Homo sapiens: one gene and its partners. The protein of the gene in region 6 purifies or fractionates together with the protein of the main gene of each other region. This does not show direct contact. Each region holds a gene or a part of one and is shown on either strand. Other genes may lie near its edges.

Region 1 (3,500 bases), on a different chromosome or scaffold from region 6:
TGGCCAGCTGGTGACTGTCGGGGGCCGCTCCTTTGGGGGATTTGGAGGCCGGGCTCTGGAACTCCTTCTGCTCCCGTGGGCGGACACGCAGGCGATGTCCTCCCAGGCTGTGCTGGGACTGTGACAAGACAGCCTCTCGAGCACCCACGTCCCCCATCTCCACAATGGCAAACACTCCCTGGTAAACAACAGGGGCAGAGATGATGATTTTGGAACCAAGAATCTAAGCACGAGATCTACAGTGGATGAGAATATTTGAAATGGAGACTATCCCATAAATTGAGAATATTTGCTTGCTGTTTTCATAATAACAGGGGACATATCTAGAAAAGCAATTTTCAGCCAGGTGCAGTGACTCATGCCTGTAATCCCAGCACTTTGGGAGGCTGAGGCAGGAGAACTGCTTGAGCCCAGGAGTTGGAGACCAACCAGGGCAACATAGTGAGATCCCATCTCTACAAACAATTTTTTTTTTTTGAGATGGAGTCTTACTCTGTCACCCAGGCTGGAGTGCAGCGGGGTGATCTCGGCTTACTGCAACCTCTGCCTCCCAGGTTCCAGCGATTCTCCTGCCTCAGTCTCCCTAGTAGCTGGGATTACAGGCACATGCCACCATGCCCAGCTAATTTTTGTATTTTCAGTAAAAATGGGGTTTCACCATGTTGGCCAGGCTGGTCTCTAATTCCTAAACTCCTAAACTCGGCCTCCTAAAGTGCTGGGATTACAGGTGTGAGCCACTGCACCTGGCCAGTACAATTTTTTTAAATTAGCCAGGTAATCCCAGCTACTGGAGAGGAAGAGATGGGAGGATTGCTTGAGCCCGGGGGCTGAGATTGCAATGAGCCGAGATCGCACCACTGCACTCCAGTCTGGGTGACACAACCACACCCTGTCTCAAAAAAAAAAAGAAAAGAAAAAGAAAATTAGCCAGGCATGGCAGCACACACCTGTAGTTCCAATTACTTGGGAGGCTATGATAAGAGCATCACTTGGGCCCAGGATGTTGAGGCTGCAGTGAGCTGTGATTGTGATTGCACCACTACACACCAGCCTGAGAGACAGCGAGACCCTGTCTCAAAAAAAAGTAGAAAAACAATTCTTTCCCTCACTCCTATTCCAAACATTTTACTCTCACCCCAGTCTGCCTCTAAAAACCTCATTTTATCTACATTATTTGTCCCCTACTCTTCCCAATGATGTGATTACACTATGACCCACCCTATAACTTTTCCTGATATAATTAGAATTTTTTTAAACATTTATTAAGGATCCATGTAACAGAATGAGTCCACTTTAAAAATCTTTTAAAAAATCAATTCATGCAGCTGGGTGCAGTGGCTCACGCCTGTAATCCCAGCACTTTAGGAGGCCGAGGTGGGTGGATCACGAGGTCAGGAGATAGAGACCATCCTGGCTAACATGGTGAAACCCCGTCTCTACTAAAAATACAAAAAATTAGCCAGGCGTGGTGGTGGGCGCCTGTAGTCCCAGCTACTAGGGAGGCTAAGGCAGGAGAATGGCATGAACCCAGGAGGCGGAGCTTGCAGTGAGCTGAGATGGCGCCACTGCACTCCAGCCTGGGCGACAGTGGGAGACTCTGTCTCCAAAAAAAAAAAAAAAAAAAAATCAATTCATGTAATAAACACTGTGCGAGGCATAAATACAAACTCATAAACCCTGTCTTCAAGAACTCACTATCTAGGAATAACAGCAATATAACAACTATATTGTTGTAAGTTGGTGAGTTCAATGATATTCACTGGCCATATTTTTTTAAAGGTAAAATATTAGCAAGAAGAGGAAAAACGCCGGGCGCAGTAGCTCACGCCTAATCTCAACACTTTGGGAGGCCTAGGCGGGTGGATCACTTGAGGTCAGGAGTTCAAAACCAGCCTGACCAACATGGCAAAACCCCATCTCCACTAAAAATACAAAATTAGCCAGATATGGTGGTGCATGCCTGTAATCCCAGCTACTCAGGAGGCAATTGCTTGAACCCGGGAGGCGGAGGTTACTGTGAGCCGAGATTGTGCATTGTACTCCAGTCTGTCCAGTCTGGACAACAAGAGCGAATCTCCGTCTCAAAAAGAAAAAAAAAGAAGAGGAAAAACAGGACTGCTTTAGGCAAAAAAGTCCATATTCTTTTATATCCTCCAATGGTAAAGCTGGACCCTCATCTTGTTTATAAAAAGGTTCCTGCTAGAGTAAGGTAGCACCAAGACAGAGTGGTGCTAGCATAAAGATAGACATTCAGATGAAGGGAATGGAATTGAGACCCTGAAAGAAATTCACACATCTTTGGTCAACTGATTTTGAACAACGGTGTCAAGAAGATTCAATGGGGAAAGAACAGTCTTGTCAACAAATTGTGCTGGGACAACTGGATAGCCACATGCAAAACAATGATGTTGAACCTTTACCTCACACCATACATAACAATTAACTCAACCAGGAGGATGGCTTCACCAGTACACAGGCCTAAATCACAAATGGGAAGTAACCAAGAAAGGATAAGGCGTTTCTTTTTGGAGTGGTGAAAACATTCTGGAATCAGTCATGAGGGTTGAAGAACCCTGTGAATATACTAACACTCACTGAATTGTATTTTTTTTTTTTTTTTTTTGAGACAGAGTGTCTCTGTCACTCAGACTTGAGTACAGTGGCACACTCTCGGCTCATTATTACCTCTGCCTCCCGGGGTTCAAGCAATTATCCTACCTCAGCCTCCCTAGTAGCTGGAATCAAAGACACGCACCACTACACCTGGCTAATTTTTGTATTTTTAATAGAGATGTGGTTTCACCACATTAGCCAGGCTGGTCTCAAACTCCTGATCTCAAGTGATCCTCCCACCTCGGCCTCCCAGAGGGCTGGGATTACAGGTATCAGCCACCACACCCACCCCTAAATTGTATACTTTTTTTTTTTTTTTTTTTGAGATGGAGTTTCGTTCTGTCACCCAGGCTGGAGTGCAGTGGCACGATCTTGGCTCACAGCAACCTCTGCCTCCCAGGTTCAAGTGATTCTCCTGCTTTCTGCCTCCCGAGTAGCTAGGATTATAGGTGCCCACCACCACACCCAGGTAATTTTTTGTATTTTTAGTAGAGATGGGGTTTCACCATGTTGGCCAGGCTGGTCTCCAACTCCTAACCTTAGGTGATCCACCTGCCTCGGCCTCCCAAAGTGCTGGGATTACAGGCCATGAGCCACCATGCCCAGCCAATTGTATACTTTTTGTTTGTTTATTTTTTTACCCAATAGTAAATAACCAACCAATGAATTGTATACTATTTATTTTATTTTACTTTTTTTTTTTGAGAAGGAGTCTCGCTCTGTTGCCCAGGCTGGAGTGCAGTGGCACGATCTCGGCTCACTCCAACCTCCGCCTCTCGGGTTCAAGCAATTCTCCTGCCTCAGTCTCCTGAATAGCTGGGATTACAGGAATCTGCCACTACGCCCAGCTAATTTTTTTGTATTTTTAGTAGAGACGGTTTCACCAT
Region 2 (3,075 bases), on a different chromosome or scaffold from region 6:
AAATTACAAAAATTAGCCGGGCATGATGGCAGGTGCCTGTAAGCCCAGCTACTTGGGAGGCTGAGGGGGGAGAATTGCTTGAACCCAGGAGGTGAAGGTTGTAGTGAGCCGAGATGGTGCCATTGCACTCCAGCCTGGGCAACAGAGCGAGACTCTGTCTCAAAACAAAACAACAAAAAAAGTTTTCAAATAAATTCCAAGAAGAATTTCTATGTAAGAAATGAAATAAAACAGATACTAAATAAAAATATGCCACAACTGAAAATGAACGCAGGACACAGGCAATTAAACAAAAATGCAGGCTGAATGCAGTGGCTTTACACCTGTAATCCCTGCACTTTCGGAGGCTTAGGTGGGAGGATCGCTTGAGCCCAGGAGTTTTGAGACCAGCCTGGGCAACATAGTGAGACCCTGTCTCTACGAACAATTTTTTTTAATTAGCCAGGTGTGGTGGTGCTTGGTTGTGGTCCTAGCTACTCAGGAGGCTGAGGTGGGAGGATTGCTGGAGCCCAGGAAGTTAAAGCTCTAGTGAGCTGTGATTGCGCCACTGCACCCTAACTATAGCAACAGAGTGAGACTCAAAAAAAAACCAACCAAACAAAAACCAAATGTAATAAATACGATCTAACCTCACTGACCTCACTGATAAATAATAAAGAAGCCAAGGATTAACTATACCTGCTAACCAAGCAGATTAATAAATTCAAAGCAGGAACCCTCTCATCATCTTTGCTATCCTAAAAAAAAAAAAAGAAAAATTTAAATATTGTCTGTTCCTATTACTTTTGAAATAAATTTTCTATTAAGATGTAAAACACGAAACATGAAAACTTTATTATATGACAGTAATCATCATGTGGAAATAGGAGCCCTCAAAGAAAAAGCAGAGAACTGTAGAGTTAATGATTCCTTGAGAAACATCTAAGACTATCTTTTAAATAAAGATTCTGAATAGGGAAAAAAAAATAAAGAGGGATCTAAGGGGGATAACTTGGGGGAAATTTTTCCCTGGTTCCTACTAAAGGAACAATAAGAATCCTGTGTCTTAACTGTACAGTGATGAATATATATATATATATTCATATATATTATATATGTGTCTTAACTGTAGTGAATATGTATTCATATATAATAAATATATATTAATATACATATATGAATAAATATATTTATCACTGTAGTCAAGACACAGGATTCTTATTGTTCCTCTATATAATGCATACAATATATGTGAGGATATATATAGAATATATATGAATATATATAATATATATTAATCACTGTACAGTCAAGACACAGGATTCTTACTGTTCTTATATATATTCATTACTGAATTATATAAAGATATATATATAAAGATATATATATATACACACACACACACACACATATATATACACACACACACACACACACACACACCAGGTGCAGTAGCTCATGCCTGTAATCCCAGCACTTTGGGAGGCTGAGGCAGGTGGATCACTTGAAGTCAGCAGTTTGAGACCAGTCTGGCCAACATGGTGAAACCCTGTCTCTACTAAAAATACAAAAATTAGCCAGGCATGGTGGCGGGCACCTGTAATCTCAGCTACTCTGGAGGCTAAGGCAGGAGAATTGCTTGAACCTGGGAAGCGGAGGTTGCAGTGAGCCGAGACCGCACCATTGCACTCCAGCCTCGGTGACAGAGCGAGACTCCATCTCACAATAAAAGAAAAAAAAAAAAAAAAAAAAAAGGCTGAAGCTACAGCAGCCATCTTGGATCATAAGATGAGCATGAGGATGAAAGCCACATATGACAAAACTCAAAGGTGTGGGTGGGTTACTGCCATCTTAGTAAAAATCTAATTTTTTTACCTACTTCTTTTTTGAGACAGAGTCTTGCTCTGTTGCCCAGGCAGGAGTGCAGTGGTGCAATCTCAGCTCACTGCAACCTCCGCCTCCTGGGTTCGAACGATTCTCCTGCCTCAGCCTCCTGAGTAGCTGGGATGACAAGCACCCACCACCACACCCAGCTAAATTTTGTATTTTTAGTAGAGACGGGGTTTCACCATGTGGGCCAGGTTGGTCTCAAACTCCTGACCTCAGGTGAGCCACCCGCCTCAGCCTCCCAAAGTGCTGGGATTATAGGTGTGAGCCACCACGCCCGGCTCAGACTTCTTTATCTCAGAAAACATTTCCATATTATTTAAGCTACTATTATTTTGGGCTTTACAAATCTAATTGCCACCAATAAAATATTCCATGTGTTTTCCTATTTCACTGAACTCCTTCTTTACCACCATATAAATTGGTGGGTGCTTTTAATTTTAAACAGTAAGTTGCAACTTACCACTAAGAGCCTCACTTCAGAGCACCTTCTTGCAAGCTGCCGAATCAGTGAATGAGCCTCAGGTAACAAAGGCTTTTCAAGACAAGCCAATAAAGCATAAAGCCATCTTCCCTAAAAAAAAATTCAAAAAATTAATATTTAGACAAATACTGAACCAGAAGTTTATTTTTTAAATGTCCAATGTTATGCCTGATTATCTGCTATGAATAAATTCATAGAACATTTAACTATATTATGTTTGGGTATAGACAAGAAAGCCTCATTTGGAGAGCCAGGTGTTATCTCTTGTATCCTATAATTACAGACACAGGACATTGGATACCTCAAAATATTCCCTGATCTCCAAAGAGTTTGTTTCAGATATTCTTATGATAGGAAGTTCTCATTTGTAAGCAGAACACTACATTAAGATGAATATAAATACTGGAAAAAATTAAGATACATTTTTTTCTTTGTTCTGTATGGACAGATATAGAAATCATTTTATAATTGTATAATTTTGTCCTCTGGGGACATACAAAGAAACTATACTACAGATGAAATAATCTTTTGACACTTTTATAAATACTTTGACAGGCTCAATGTATCCCCACTCCCTTTTAAAATGGGGTTTTCAGCTACAAAATGAATACATATTTGATGCAGAAAAACTGTGAAGAATACCACAAGCACAAGAAAAAACCTGCAGTCCCAACATTCCAGATCAAACTTTGATTCACTTTAAAAATGTTCTTGTTTTTCCTATT
Region 3 (2,437 bases), on a different chromosome or scaffold from region 6:
CTAGGTGCTGCCCATTGTGATTAGATGGGTTCTGGTCTTCTGCCTGCAGTGCCCCTGCTCCCCTTTGTCCCTGTGCTCACCTCTAACATGCTCTTTGAGGCTGAAGGGAGGAATAAAAGAGCAAAAACAACCGGGCACAGTGGCTTACGCCTGTAATCCCAGCACTTTGGGAGGCCGAGGCGGGTGGATCACAAGGTCAGGGGTTCAAGACCAGCCTGGCCAAGATGGTGAAACCCCGTCTCTACTAAAAATACAAAAAAATTAGCTGGGCGTGGTGGCGGGCGCTTGTAATCCCAGCTGCTCAGGAGGCTGAGGCAGAGAATTGCTTGAACCTGGGAGGTAGAGGTTGCAGTGAGCCGAGATGGTGCCATTGCATTCCAGCCTGGGCGACAGAGCGAGACTCTGTCTCAAAAAAAAAAAAAAAAGAGCAAAAACTTAATTCAGGCTTGTATTGTGAAAGTGTATTATTTATCAGAGGCCCTTTGCCTCAGTGACATACAAACCACCTGAAAATGTTAACTGTCCCTAGCCCTCTTTGTAAATTAAAGGACCTGACAATTAATGCCTTGTATAAGACAAAACGTCTTATTGAAAATAAATTATCAGCTCTTTTAAAAACATACAAAGAAGTGCATTTTTAAAAAAGTGCTCGGTGGCTAAAGAAGACTCTGTGCACTTGTTTTACTACCTTCGTAGTAAGTCTGCCCAAAATTTACTGAGCACAGAGCAGGTCCTCTTTGGTTTGTCACTAAGGCCATCTTCTCTTTGTCAATTTAGCCCGTGGAACACAGAGCATTCCTAATGACAGTCCTGCCCGGGGTGAGGGCACCCATTCTGAAGAGGAAGGCTTTGCCATGGATGAGGAGGACTCTGATGGAGAACTGAATACCTGGGAGCTGTCAGAAGGGACAAACTGTCCACCCAAGGAACAGCCTGGCGATCTTTTTAATGAGGACTGGGACTCGGAGTTGAAAGCAGATCAAGGGAATCCATATGGTAGGTGTGGAGTCTCTGGGGGTCCTGAACTAGGCCTTCTCAGACACACCTGTCAGACCAGCCCTGAAGGCAGTTTGGAACAGGGGTCCACATCTATGAGCTTAGGCTGGTATCTGTTACAGGTCTCCAATTTCTGTGACACCTTCTCTTTTATATTGAAAAAATCCAAATTTTGCATTTGACTCCATAATGTATCACTGTTTTAAAGTCAAAACTGTTACTCTCTCCAAAAATCTCTGCTATGAATTGAGCAGCTGCAGATAGAAGTGCTGTGTTATCCAGTTTGCTTCTTCACTGCTAAGAACCCTTGTCTGAGAAGCATAGCTTCTCAGCTGTTCCGAATGAACGCATTTACAATTCTTCAGGAAAGGAGAACTGTGTGTGTTTTTAAACAAAATAAGTGCAAGGATCTGTCCCCTAGACATACCTTTTTGGCTGTCCGTTTTTACCTTCCTTCCTTCCCTCCTTCCTTCCCTTAATCTGTCTTTTAAAACTGCCTGCAGATGCTGACGACATCCAGGAGAGCATTTCTCAAGAGCTTAAACCTTGGGTGTGCTGTGCCCCACAAGGAGACATGATCTATGACCCCAGCTGGCACCATCCGCCTCCACTGATACCCTATTATTCCAAGATGGTCTTTGAAACAGGACAGTTTGACGATGCTGAAGATTGAGTGTGGAGCTTTCTGCCTTGTAGGTGGGCGGGCCTCCACGTCAAGATCTCTTTTCCTGTCTTGGAGGTGAAAAGTCATATCTGAGAAAATGTTTGCAGTGACCCCTAGTCTGGGGTACACAGACCAGTGTTCCTTATTGACAGTGTTCAATAAGGCCCCGTCATTCTCGCCAGTCTGTTGTTGTTCTTAATGGGCTCCTCCTTGAAATGTGTGTGTGTTTGTGTCAAGAGGAGTTGTGTTCTTTGTAAATAAAGGTTAAAAAGAGAAACCAGTATGCTTCGTCTGCTTTTTTCCCATTTATTTATTTATGGAGACAGTCTCACTGTGTCACGCAGGCTGGAGTGCAGCAGCGCGAACTTGGCTCGTTGGAACCTCCACCTCCTGGGTTTAAGCGATTTTTGTGCCTCAGCCTCCTGAGTAGCTGGGACTATAGGTGCTCGCCACCACACCCGGCTAATTTTTTGTATTTTTAGTAGAGATGGGGTTTCACCACGTTGGCCAGGCTGTTCTCAAATTCCTGGCCTCAAGTAATCCACCCGCCTTGGCCTCCCAAAGTGCTGGGATTACAGGTGTGAGCCACCGTGCCCAGCCTTCACTACTTCATTTAAAGTCCCTGAATGACATTTTAAAGATTCAAACGCTTGGAGGCTTAAAACTACTCTGTGAAAGAAAAAAAATTTTAGTTTTGCTTCTGTAGATCTAGCACTGTTGACCAAGGATTGGAATCCAGGAGACACTGGTGATTTTGTAGCTGATTGTTTTCCTGTT
Region 4 (3,500 bases), on a different chromosome or scaffold from region 6:
GAACAAACACCAGTCTAGGTATGGGCATGCACTAAAAACCTTGTGAGGAAGACAAGTGTCAAGTTGCAAGGATGACAAATGGCATACAGAAAGCTGTGAAAGCCTTTAGCTGACAGGAATGGGGCAAGGAAAGGGATAGTTGACCTAGACGAGGTGGTCATGGGTAGAGAGGTTTGAGCTGAGATTCCGGCATTAACAAAACCAAGAGGAGCAAAGAGAAAGCTCCAGCCAGAGAAGGCTTTTCCTGGGGCCAAGGGAACCTGGCAAGCCCAAGGAAGGGTAGAAGAGCTCGGGCAGAAAAAGCAAGGGCTGAAGGAGAGACGAACAACGACAAAACCTCAGAGAACATGGAAAAGAGGTTGTCTTTATCCTATCGATGGGAAAATCCTGAAGTATATAAGCAGGTTGGTGACACGGCTATATTCGGGTTTAAAAAATAGTCATCTAAAGGAGGTATTATCACCCACCTCATTTTACACCTGAACAAACTGAAACTTGAAAAATTTAGGTAACCTGACCTGCACATGCAGCGGAGTCTGTGACTCAGCTGGGACTAACAAGTCTGTCAGACCCAAAGCCTGCACTCTTTCCAGCATCTACACAACTTTACAGGGGTAGAGAGGCAGAAACAAAGGCTACAGCAGGTTAAAGGATGAAAACTAAAAGCTGCGGACAGGACTCTCATCCCCTTTCTCCCTTCACCTTTGTGATGCAAAGCCTAGAAGTTAGTGGTGAAAGGAAAGAATTTTTTTCTCTTCCTTCCTCTCAATCCCCTTCCCCACCTTCCCTATCCCATCAGCACATCATCCCATCAGTCTTCTCCGGAAGGGGTAAGAAGCCATAACACAGCTAGGAGGGGAGAGAGGGCAGACATGGGGGTGATGCAGAGATGCTGCTCAGTCTCCCCTAGGAGTAAGGAATACAGGTGAAGGGAGAAGCAGAAAATGAGCGGCCTAGGGAAAGTGACACCCAGAGGTGTTCATCGAACATCTGTCAAATCAAAATACAGAACCTGGATTCTCTTCCAATCACAAATCATGTGTCCATAGGGAAGTCACTTCAACTGTCTGACATTCAGTGTCCTTAGGACCTGGCTTCTGTCTGGCTGCTCATGAAAGCAGCAGCACCTTTCACTCCCTGAGCTCTTCTAATCCCCACAGGTATACGTGATCCTAAATTTCAAACCAAACTTGCAAGTATTTTAATAAAATGTATAATTGCTGATTACACTAACTTTGTATTGCCTAAACACTTTTAATGACTATTGCACTAGGACCTTTAATTTTTTTTTTTTTTTTTTTTTTTTTTTTTTTTTTTTTTTTGAGATACAGTCTGGCTCTGTCACCCAGGCTGGAGTGCAGTGGCACAACCTTGGCTCACTGCAACCTCTGCCTCCTGGACTCAAGCAATCCTCCCACCTCAGCCTCCCAAGTAGCTAGGACCACAGGTGTGAGCCACCATGCCCAGCTAGTTTTTGTATATTTAGTAAAGATGGGGTTTTGCCATGTTGCCCAGGCTGGTCTCAAACTCCTGGGCTCGAGGGATCCATCCACCTCAGCTTCCCAAAGTGCTGGGATTACAGGCATGAGCCACCACACCTGGCCCTTATTAGGACTTTTAAAAAGTATTCCTCAACCAAAGGAATCAAATATGTATCAGTAAAATCAGAATATGATTCTTCAGTACATCAAATCTAAAATCTTATATGGCTAGGTAACTCTTCTCTTGTTATGTATATCTTCTCCCCAGCTAAACTGTGTCTCACAGACTAGATATTTCCTAGAATGACCCAAAATAATTTATTTTTTCTTTTGATATTTCTTTCATTTTAATTTTGATTTGATTTTTAACAATTTGTTAGCATTCCCTAGAGACATTCTAGTTAAACAAGGGGAAAGGCAATGTGGAAATGTGCCTGGTCAAAGAGATTATCACCCACAATCAAACAGAAATTCAAATCTGGCTCGTAATTGGGCCAAAGGGTAAAAACAGTCAGTCTTCCAAGTGAGGTGTTCTTTCCTGAGGGATTTTAATTCCTACCTCACCGCTTCAGTGGTTGTAATGAGATGCAGTAGTTTTCTCTCTCAGGGGTTTCTCAGTATGAGCTAACTGGCTAGTTCCATTTCCTATTATTTATTGCATTAATTTTTCAGATTTTAATAGATTTTTACCAAGTTTAATGGTGCAATATTAAGTTGTTACAATACTGAGTAATTTTTTAAAGAAACTATGTTGAAATAATCACTATAATAAACAAGATTAAGCAGCAAGAAACCCCAGTTTACCTTCCCAACAGAGATCTCAGAATCCTCTTTTTTCAACTGGTCATTTCTCTCTACTTCCAAAAGTTCCCTCAGATAAAATGAACAAACACTTGCAAATGACCTTGACATGCCATCTGGCAACACTTTTTCAAGTGGATTTTGCAAAATTACCGTTTAAATATGATTGTCTAAATATTTTTGGAGGCTGAGGTGGAAAGACTGCTTGAGTCCAGGAGTTCAAAGCTGCAGTGAGCTATGACTGTGCCACTGCACTCCAGCCTGGGTGCCAGAGCAAGACCCTGTCTCAGAAAAACAAATGATATTTTCCAAACCTGTTGTTTAAATACATTTCTATTACTTAAACAGAAATATTCCCTGGACAGTCCTGCTAAAATGCCACCAAATACTCTTAAAAGCTAAGAGCAAGTGGGCTAATAAGCATTTAGTTGTACTTTAAATTTAGAATAAAATTTCACAGTAAAAATAACTTTTTAAAAATAGCACCTCTTTGTTGGTGATTGGAATGGACAGGAAATAGTTGGGTTGATAATCTTTTCTCTTTTTTTTCCTCTTCTTTACTTGATCACTCTTGACCCATTCATTTTCTTGACTTCTCTTCAAATTTATTTGAGGTTCATCAGTGACTAGAGGAAAAAAGTCAAACAATACGTCTAATACATTTAAACAAAGATAATACAGTCAGAAAAAAAAACAAGCAATATATAAGTAGCAATCATTCATCAGTGTCATTTTCAAATCTAAAGCAGGAGTTTGCAAACATTTCTGTAAAGGACCTCATAGTAAATAGTTTAGGCATTGCAGATGACATAGTCTCTGCCGTTAACTACTCAACTCTGCTGTAGACAAAACATAAATGAGTGGGTACAGTTGTGTTCCTGCTTTATTTTCAAAGCAGGGTGGTTAACCAGATTTGGCCTGAGGGCCATAGTGAGCTGACTCATGATCTGAAGCACAGCTCCCGGCACCACAATGTTCATAACACTAAGAAAGATCATTTCTTCAACCATCCTGTATAGGTATGTTTGTAACTTCTAGGGTATAACCCTACTGCCACACAAAGTTTTGGTCTGGGGCCACTGTCACACTATAAACTATTTGTTGCAAAAATTAAGAGAATGCTTTGGAAACTTCCATAGCAATGGGGCAGAATAATTTGGTCTGCTGAATTTTGATTCCTACTTTGTAGGTCTTTTCTTTTATTTCATTTTCTAATAA
Region 5 (3,500 bases), on a different chromosome or scaffold from region 6:
TGCAGTGAGCTGAGATCATGCCACTGCACTCCAGCCTGGGTGACAAAACGAGACTCTTAAAAAAAATTGCATATTAAATTGGTATTAGTTGTCATAGTTATTAATGTTGGAAGGTGTTTTGCCTACTTTAGTTGGCAAAATTTTTTGAAGATTTTTGAAATTGCTTTCAAAAACATTTTAAGAATGAAAATTGGTCCTACTTTTTTGCTTTGACCTCAAACGCAGTTATCCAGCTTGATCATCTGCTTTATTCATTAACCTTGTCTCCAAAAATTAAATTGGTTCAATTCTGTACTAAAAAATGTAGTCTCCCAAGCCCCTGATTCCCTGTTGAGTCTGGTTTTAAAAAAAACTGTTGACTGTGCTCAGAAATTCCAGGTAGAGGCAGGAGGAACTGGTTGCTTGGCCTCTCAGTATATACCCCCGGAGGCTACCATGTGTCTCCCCATCGCCCACGTGCATGGGCAGTGCATCCTCTTGATGCATTAGAAAATCAGCTCCCACAGCTGGAGACCTGGGAGAAGGAGAATTGGGATCTTAACAGTGATAAAGTGCCTTCTGGTTTCTCCTGGGGGGTTGTGATCACTGTTTTAGAAGGGTTCTAAAAGCATCAGGAACCGAGGCTGCACCATTAGGATATATCTAGTCTCTCCTGATGAATGCTGTGATGGTCAGTGCTCACTTGAATATATCAGCCTGGTGTGATTTTTTTCTCCTTTTCCCTTATTCAGTCACTTTTGGTTCCCTGGTGTAATCTTTACTTTCATCGAGTTATTTAAGATAGTGTCTGCCATTTATGATTTAAATGTTTTATTTTGCCTCTAAAGATATTTCTGTATATTCACATAAAGTGTTTATCAGTCCACCTGTTTTTATTTTCTCTATATGTGGATTTATTTCTAAATTTTTCAACTGAGATAAAATTCACATAACATAAAATTCAACATTTTAACCATTTTAAAGTCTACAATTCAGTGGTTTTTAGTATATTCACAGTGTTTTACATGTTGATTTTGACTTGGACTTTTATTTTTGAAAGGAAGGAAGAATATTAAGCCACAATCCAGAGACCCAGCAAGTAGATATAGAAATTCTTTCATCCTTACCTGGTGAGTCTTTTAGAAAATAATTTGAAAATGTAGGCTCTATCTACAGTGGTTTATAAATAGCTTTTATACACAGGAGATGTTCTCTTCCTTGGCCTCCATATAACTGGCGCTCCCCACTTCTTTCAGCACACTTTAGCCCTGGGGGCTCATAAGAGATGTTGGATATATTCCAAAGCTGTTGGGCTAGTTCTTATTACTGTAATTATATAATTTCATAAAAGATTATATGAACTGATGAAAATCGATTATAAAAAGAATTATTCCTAGGAAGCCTAAGTTGAATGCTGACTCAGGAAATGCTATGAAATTATGGATGAGTGGGTCAGCTATAAAAGATTGGGAGGAATTTTGTAAAAACTGAGGAAGATTCTGCACTTAGATTGCCTTGCAAATTTTTGCAATCTTGCCTTATTTAAGAAAAACCCAGGCTGGGCACGGTGGCTCACACCTGTAATCCCTGCACTTTGGGAGGCCAAGGTTGGTGGATCACTTGAGGTCAGGAGTTTGAGACCATCCTGGCCAACATGGTGAAACCCTGTCTCTACTAAAAATACAAAAATTAGCCGGGCGTCATGGCACACGCCTGTAATCCCACCTACTGGAAAGGTTGAGGCAGGAGAATCGCTTGAACCCGGGAGGTGGAGGTTGCAGTGAGCCGAGATAGTGCAACTGCCTTCCAGACTGAGTGACAGAGCAAGACTTAGTCTCAAAAAATATTTTAAAAACCCCCAAACTGTAAATTGTGGAAATTGCAGACAATACAATGGTATGGTTTATTAAAAAAAGAGCTCTATTCAGTGAACTCATAAGACCTACTCAGCTCTATTTCAAAAGATTGTCAAATGAATATACTTTTGTATATTAAGTCAAAACAAAATGTCTGAAGTGTGTGTATACATACACTTTCACATATCATTTTAAATGGTTGCTGGATTTATCTCTGATGAACCCCACCTGGTACTGGAACTGAATGCGTGGAATAAGAGGGCTTTTATAATATGTAGCTTAACTTGGGGTGTACTGTAGGGGTCCCTGGCCAGAGGGCAGGGGAGATTCCTTTTCCTTTAGAAGATCCTAAAGCAATTAATTGTTTTCCTTTTTTTTTTGACAGAGTCTCACTCTATCGCCCAGGCTGGAGTGTGGTGGCACAATCTTGGCTCACTGCAGCCTCCGCCTCCCAGGTTCAAGTGATTCTCATGCCTCAGCTTGCAGAGTAGTTGGGACTACAGGCACACACCACCATGTCCAGCTAATTTTTGTATTTTTAGTAGAGATGGATTTTGACATGTTGGCCAGGTTGGTCTTGAATTCTTGGCCTCAAGCAATCCACCTGCCTTGGCCTCCCAAAGTGCTGAGACTACAGGTGTGAGCCACTGTGCCCAGCCTGTTTTCTGTTTGTTTGTTTGTTTGTTTGTTTGTTTATTTTTGAGACGGAGTGTTGCTGTCGCCCAGGCTGGAGTGCAGTGGCGCTATCTTGGCTCACTGCAAGCTCTGCCTCCCAGGTTCGCACCATCCTCCTGCCTCAGCCTCCCGAGTAGCTGGAACTACAGGCGCTGGCCGCCATGCCCGGCTAATTTTTTGTATTTTTAGTAGAGACGGGGTTTTACCATGTTAGCCAGGATGGTCTCGATCTCCTGACCTCGTGATCCACCCACCTTGGCCTCCCAAAGTGTTGAGGTTACAGGCATGAACCACCGCACCTGGCCTTCTGTTTATTTTTAGATAAGGGATTGAATAAAAGATTCAGCTAACAGAAATCAGTCGAAAGAGTTTTTGAACAAAGTTCGTTTATGATATTAAGTAAATGTTTATATATAACTTACACTGGGTTCCTACCTTTCTTTTTTTTTTGAGATGGAGTCTCACTCTGTTGTCCAGGCTGGAGTGCAGTGGGCGATCTCGGCTCAGTGCAAGCTCCGCCTCCCGGGTTCACGCCATTCTCCTGCCTCAGCCTCCCGAGCAGCTGGGACTACAGGCACCCGCCACCACACCTGGCTAATTTTTTGTATTTTTAGTAGAGATGGGGTTTCACTGTGTTAGCCAGGACGGTCTCGATCTCCTGACCTCGTGATCCTCCCACCTCAGCCTCCCAAAGTGCTGGGATTACAGGCATGAGCCACCGTGCCTGGCCAGGTTTCCAACCTTTCTTCTGATGAGATTTCATTTATAGAAATCCCCTTTCTTAGGAACGGTGGACAGAAAAGTTTGTCCACTGTCAAATTCTGTGCATACAGCCTGATCAGTGCTTGTCAGGTGATTAATAGTGATGACATCCACTTAGAACTTTTCTTCTTTAGGGCATCAAGAAATGGCTTCGGGGGCGAAGGTGGGAGGATCACTTGAGCCCAGGAGTTCAAGACCAGCCTGGGCAGCATAGTGAGACTCTGTCGT
Region 6 (3,159 bases):
TACCTTCTTAAATGCAACAGGATAAACAAGAGCTAAGGAGTTTATTTTTTATTTTTATTTTTTAATGATACCAAAGTCCTTATTCTGAGTTCCCGTTAAAAGTCTCATACTTTGGTGTTACCTAATGTTCTGCTTAGTGGTCTTCTCATGACTACCAACATGAACTCGTAGGATGTGTGGTCCGTAGGAATGAAACAAAATGAAATGCTTGGGTCACTTTGGCCAAACTAGAGGTGGTTCTCCCTTCCACCTTCCATGCCTACTCGGCTTCTGAGAGGTCTGCTCAAAGCGAACAGTAAGGTGTCTTCATCAAAGAACATAGCACAGATGAATCAAATAAGTCAAGATCCTCTTTAAGAGCCAATGATGTGAACTTGGGAGTCTAAAGATGAGTGTCACTGATTACATCATGGGAAATGTGACATGAAGGGAAGCATCAGAATGCCAGTACAGCCGCCCCCCAACCCTGCCCCCCAAGTCCTAGGGGTAGTGTGCACGTTAAAGGATCTACCCTATCAACACGCACAGAACCCAACCTGCCAGTGACTGCTGCCATTAGCTGTCTTGAGGTGAGACAAGATCATAACATTTCTTAGGAAAAAGAGGAGGTCAAATAAGGATATGAAAAATAGGATAAATAATTCTATAAATAGAAAGGACTAGAAAGCCAGGAAATAATGTATGTAAAAATATGATATGAAGAAATAAGGTCCTGTAAGCATAGGGGACAGACTCTTATTATAAAAGTCAGGAAGTTTAGTTTATAGCAAAGAGATCCAACTATTTAGGGGGTTGAAGACATCCAGAATTAAAGAAATCAACAAAAAATCTGAACTCAAGAATCCCAGAGTTTCTGGGAGATGGAACCAAAAAGTGGGGTAATTCTCATAATTCTGATATCTTTCCCTCCCCACCAAAAATACAAATATGACTTTATTATAATTTTCATTTTTAAACTAGGTACTTAAAAATAACTATAAAAATCATAGCAATTTATTAGTTGTTAAAAACTGAGTAACTTTTTCTATTTTGCCATTTTTGCCAAACTGAAGGATGCAAATCTGCATAGAAAGCATCTGAATGTTTAATAGAGAAGGGACAAATAGGACGAACTGCCAAATTATGCAAATCAAAGACAGCAGGGAAACGGTGCCCATTCTTACATCTCCAACTTCCAGGCTACAAGAAGCAGGAATATGTGTTGGGGAGATATACTACACTATATTCGAGAAAGCAGGGTTCCAGGTAAGGAGAACAATGTCCCTCAGTTCCTCATCACTAAAGGAAGGGAAGGAGAGAATTTTGGTTTCAAAATTCCATGAAGCATCTACAAAATAACTGGTCAAACTGAAGATCTGACATATAAGCATTTTAAAATAATCAAGCCTAAAAGTGGACTTTTAAATTATCTAGAAACCTCTTTGGTGATCTGGATTATAAATAGAAAGGCTTATTTTGAATGCTGTACTGTAGGGCGAAGAAATGTTACCATTGTTTCCTCGGATAAATGCATCCCCATACTTATTCTTCAGTTGTCCATTTACATATTCTTCTGTCTGCTCCAGGGCTATATTCATGTAGCCATCCAGGCAAGCCAGGACCCCTGCAGACATATTTAGTCAAAAAGAAGATACACAAGGCAAATAAGAGTTGAAAATTACAGGGTATACCTTAGAGCAGACAATCTCTTTATTCATTAGTTCTTAGATGCTTAATATAAAAATTCACACCATAAATGAAACTCAACAGCTTAAGCACAAAACAACTCTATGCCAATCTGAATGAAGTCTAGGAAGGCAGTCACGCACCCACTACTACCCGGTAAAACAACAAACTGTCACTTCCCTCATGGTACGTATGACCACACAGAAACTTTTAAAGCATTCAAAAAAGTAAGAGAATAAGACTATTCCGGCAAAAATACCATTCTTTGAAAGCTAAGCACAAGGTGGGCAATTATGCATAAACAAATGATCCTTGGTTCCAGTGGCATTTCCTACTTTAGCCACTAAGTGAAATACGGGTCTGGCAGATTTATTTCATTCTTTTACAACATCTATTGCAGCAGATGAATGTACTCCAGGGTTAAAAGGAAGTCTCCACAATCTGTTAAAATAATAGAAGAGGAGACAGCAGGTGCTCCCGAAAGAACATCTTAAAGCTGTGACTCACAGTGAAGAGCAGCTTGAGAATATAGGGCAACATATTGCATTATAACACATCTTGTTCTGTTTTGTTACAGCTATAATATTTTCCAATCAAAACTAATAGAGAAAATGGCCAAAAACATTCGAGGGAGCTTTCAAGGAAACAGTTTGAGTCAATCTTTAATTGTGTTAAGATGGTATAAATTTTGTAAAATTTGACCTGATGATCTTTTTCAAAAGATGAAAATCTGTAAGCCTCTAATTCTGTCTCTAATTTAAAGTGGTATTTCCTAGAAAAAAAAATTTAAGTAAAAACAAATACTAGATTCAATTCAGTCGAGTCTATAGTTTCTCATTTGATGTCTTAACTTCATTAATATGCTCCTCACTCTCTGCCTCTGCCCCCATTATCCTCTAAACAAAAAAGTTTCCTTTCAAAATTGTGTAATGACAGCAAAAGACATTAATCTACCAGAATTCTGCTAAAAGCGGTAAACTCTCAAAGAACGAGAATGGACTGTGAATAATAAAATTATTTCCTAGCAAAAGAAAGCTTAAGCTACAACTTTAGCTCGTTTCCTGCTGTACTATTTTACATACAAACTGCAATTATAAATGAGCAAGAAAAATCTGAGGCACAATATGCAAACCTGTTTGAAAACCAATGAAAAGAATTTCAAAATGAAATGTCCAGGCTGGGCAAAGTGGCTCATGCCTGTAATCCCAGTACTTTGGGAGGTAGAAGCTGGCAGATCACTTGAGGTCAGGAGTTCAAGATCAGCCTGGCTAACATGGCGAAACCCCGTCTCTACTAAAAATACAAAAATTAGCCAGGCATGGTGGCAGGTGCCTGTAATCCCAGCTACTTGGGAGGCTGAGGCAGGAGAATCGTCTGAACTTGGGAGGCGGAGGTTGCAGTGAGCCAAGACTGAGCCACTGCACTCCAGCCTGGGCGAAAGAGTGAGACTCGGTCTCAAAAAAGAAAAAAGAAAAAAAAAAAAGAGTTCACTTC
Region 7 (2,365 bases), on a different chromosome or scaffold from region 6:
TTTAAAACAGAAGTCAGATCATATCACTCCCCTGCCAAAACCCTCCCACAGCCGTACACTATCTGATTGCATCTACTACTTTCTCCCTTGATGATGATGTCTCAGCCCTGTTTCTGGAAGATGTCACGTACACTCCTGCCTCAGGGCTTTGCAACTGCTGGTTGTTCTGCCTGGCATGTTCTTCCTTCTTGTTATGCAAACAATTCACCTTCTTCAAGTATTTGCTCAAATATCAGCCCTCAGTAAGGCCTTTCCAAGAACCCTATTTTAAACTGCAAACTCTTTCATCTATAGGCGCCCTCTCATCTCTGCATTATTTCTCTCCATAGAATTTATCACCTGCTGATACACTGCTTTTTACTTACTTTGGTTAATGTCTTATCTTCCTATCAAAATGTAAACTACTCAAAGGTAGTAATTTTTGTCTAGTTTGTTTTCTGCTGTATCCCCAGCAACTAAAATACTCAAATTTTTGATGAATGAATGAATATGCCAAATGATTGAATTGTAAAAAACTTTATGAACTGAGAGGTCCTAACTCCAAAAAGAACATTAAAGACGAAGTGTAAGAGCATTACAAATGATCGCCAATACACACAAAGGCAGAGTTGCAGTGAAAATCAACAGCCAGCTGAACTGTGGGTGAAATTCCCTTTATATAAACATGGCCTTATAATCAGATGACCTCAGATGGGTCTCTGGTGTGTACAAAGAAAGCAAAACCAATTTTCCCATGAGTGCCTCTGGACACTCATGTAAGAGTTACAGATGTTGACTACATTTAAACATTTATCATGCTTCCAAAAACATATTTGTAAGAGAAAAAAATATAAAAATAAAAATGTACAAAGTTCTTTATTAAAATAATAGCTTAAATAAATCCTCTGTCAACACCAGACAGAGTCAGTGACTGGATCTAGACTCTAGAGCTTAGAGCTTTTTACATAGTTACATGAAAACATTTGAATCCGTCTTCACAGACAGTGCCACGATGACAATCTGGTTAAAACCAATAAGCCATCTTCCAGATGCAGCTTAAGAGTTCAGGCGAGAAAAGGAACTGAGGAAAATGACTGTACATAATATGGTTCTCATTCTATTTGCCTTTTTTCGTCTTGGCTGTCTTCTCCTTTCTTTTTTTCACATGTTTAGGAATTTTGTTTTTTCTTTTCTCTCTCTGGGCTTCCTTGACCATCTTTTTTCTTTCCTGTAAAAAACAAACAAAAAAGCCAACTTTCATTCATTTGGAGTATGCATTTTTTGTTTTTGTTTTTTGTTTTTTGTTTTTTAGACAGGGTCTTGCTCTGTCGCCCAGGCTGGAGTCAGTGGCGTGACCATGGTTCACTTCAGCCTCCACCTCCTGGGCTCAAGCAATCCTCCCACCTCAGCCTCCTGGGTAGCTGGGACAACAGGTGTGCACCACCACACCTGGCTAGGTTTTTTTGGGGTATTTTTTGGTAGAGATGGGGCTTCGCCAGATTGCACAGGCTGGTCTCGACCTCCTGGGCTCAAGTGATCCACCCACCTTGATCTCCCAAAATGCTGAGATTACAGGCATGAGCCACTGCACCCACCTGGAGTATTATTATGATTATAACTAAATAAAATACACACATAGAAGAATAAAAGTGAGTGTAATGTAAAGAAAAGAAAAGAAAATGATTATGGGTTGGTGGAGGAACTTGGGGTGAAAACTGTCTTTCAGTTTTTTCTTTTTAGAGACAGGGACTCACTCTGTCACCCAGGCAGGAGGGCAGTGGCATGACCATTGTGCACTGCAGCCTCAAGCTCCTGGGCTCAAGCAATCCTCTTGCCTCAACCTCCCCAGTAGCTGAGACTACAGGCATGAGCCACCATAACCGGCCTTGAGCTTCCTCTTTTTTTTTTTTTTTTTGAGACGGAGTCTCTGTCGCCCAGGCTGGCATGCAGTGGCGTGATCTCGGCTCACTGCAAGCTCCGCCTCCTGGGTTCACGCCATTCTCCTGCCTCAGCCTCCCAAGGAGCTGGGACTACAGGCGCCTGCCACCACGCCCGGCTAATTTTTTGTATTTTTAGTAGAGATAGGGTTTCACCATGTTAGCCAGGATGGTCTCGATCTCCTGACCTCGTGATCCACCTGCCTTGGCCTCCCAAAGTGATGGGATTACAGGCGTGAGCCACCGCGCCCAGCTGAGCTTCCTTAATAGAAATGTGAAGACAGCCAAACAGAAATATCCCTAAGAATGTTATTAAATGTTTGCAAATACTTTTCTTTACAAGTTCCATATTCTAACAGAAATAGACATTGGAAAGAGACAAAATATGTGTTTCTAGTAGACATATGAGAAAATATGCTAGCAGCTGAGTATGTCCCTCAGAAGTCTTG

What was found.
Region 1: the proteins of LSM6 (region 6) and TUT1 purify together in Homo sapiens (co-immunoprecipitation; 3 studies listed by BioGRID and IntAct, with this or other methods). This does not show direct contact.
Region 2: the proteins of LSM6 (region 6) and GEMIN2 purify together in Homo sapiens (affinity purification with mass spectrometry; 2 studies listed by BioGRID and IntAct, with this or other methods). This does not show direct contact.
Region 3: the proteins of LSM6 (region 6) and COPRS purify together in Homo sapiens (co-immunoprecipitation; 3 studies listed by BioGRID and IntAct, with this or other methods). This does not show direct contact.
Region 4: the proteins of LSM6 (region 6) and AKAP7 purify together in Homo sapiens (affinity purification with mass spectrometry; 3 studies listed by BioGRID and IntAct, with this or other methods). This does not show direct contact.
Region 5: the proteins of LSM6 (region 6) and COIL purify together in Homo sapiens (affinity purification with mass spectrometry; one large-scale study listed by BioGRID and IntAct). This does not show direct contact.
Region 7: the proteins of LSM6 (region 6) and RIOK1 purify together in Homo sapiens (co-immunoprecipitation; 3 studies listed by BioGRID and IntAct, with this or other methods). This does not show direct contact.

What each region holds. Positions count from the first base shown.
Region 1 is NC_000011.10:62,581,524-62,585,023, forward strand, and holds part of TUT1 (speckle targeted PIP5K1A-regulated poly(A) polymerase), read right to left. Parts: intron 179-3,500; coding exon 1-178. UniProt on the Homo sapiens protein: Poly(A) polymerase that creates the 3'-poly(A) tail of specific pre-mRNAs. Localizes to nuclear speckles together with PIP5K1A and mediates polyadenylation of a select set of mRNAs, such as HMOX1.
Region 2 is NC_000014.9:39,131,323-39,134,397, reverse strand, and holds part of GEMIN2 (gem-associated protein 2), read right to left. Parts: intron 2,441-3,075; coding exon 2,330-2,440; intron 738-2,329; coding exon 679-737; intron 1-678. UniProt on the Homo sapiens protein: The SMN complex catalyzes the assembly of small nuclear ribonucleoproteins (snRNPs), the building blocks of the spliceosome, and thereby plays an important role in the splicing of cellular pre-mRNAs.
Region 3 is NC_000017.11:31,851,371-31,853,807, reverse strand, and holds the end of COPRS (coordinator of PRMT5 and differentiation stimulator), read left to right. Parts: intron 1-777; coding exon 778-996; intron 997-1,499; coding exon 1,500-1,669; 3' UTR 1,670-1,937; downstream 1,938-2,437. UniProt on the Homo sapiens protein: Histone-binding protein required for histone H4 methyltransferase activity of PRMT5.
Region 4 is NC_000006.12:131,159,467-131,162,966, reverse strand, and holds part of AKAP7 (A-kinase anchoring protein 7), read right to left. Parts: intron 2,909-3,500; coding exon 2,769-2,908; intron 1-2,768. UniProt on the Homo sapiens protein: Probably targets cAMP-dependent protein kinase (PKA) to the cellular membrane or cytoskeletal structures.
Region 5 is NC_000017.11:56,944,051-56,947,550, reverse strand, and holds part of COIL (coilin), read left to right. Parts: intron 1-1,039; coding exon 1,040-1,109; intron 1,110-3,500. UniProt on the Homo sapiens protein: Component of nuclear coiled bodies, also known as Cajal bodies or CBs, which are involved in the modification and assembly of nucleoplasmic snRNPs.
Region 6 is NC_000004.12:146,185,718-146,188,876, reverse strand, and holds part of LSM6 (U6 snRNA-associated Sm-like protein LSm6), read right to left. Parts: intron 1,604-3,159; coding exon 1,490-1,603; intron 1-1,489. UniProt on the Homo sapiens protein: Plays a role in pre-mRNA splicing as component of the U4/U6-U5 tri-snRNP complex that is involved in spliceosome assembly, and as component of the precatalytic spliceosome (spliceosome B complex).
Region 7 is NC_000006.12:7,416,173-7,418,537, reverse strand, and holds the end of RIOK1 (serine/threonine-protein kinase RIO1), read right to left. Parts: intron 1,208-2,365; coding exon 1,097-1,207; 3' UTR 501-1,096; downstream 1-500. UniProt on the Homo sapiens protein: Involved in the final steps of cytoplasmic maturation of the 40S ribosomal subunit. Involved in processing of 18S-E pre-rRNA to the mature 18S rRNA. Required for the recycling of NOB1 and PNO1 from the late 40S precursor.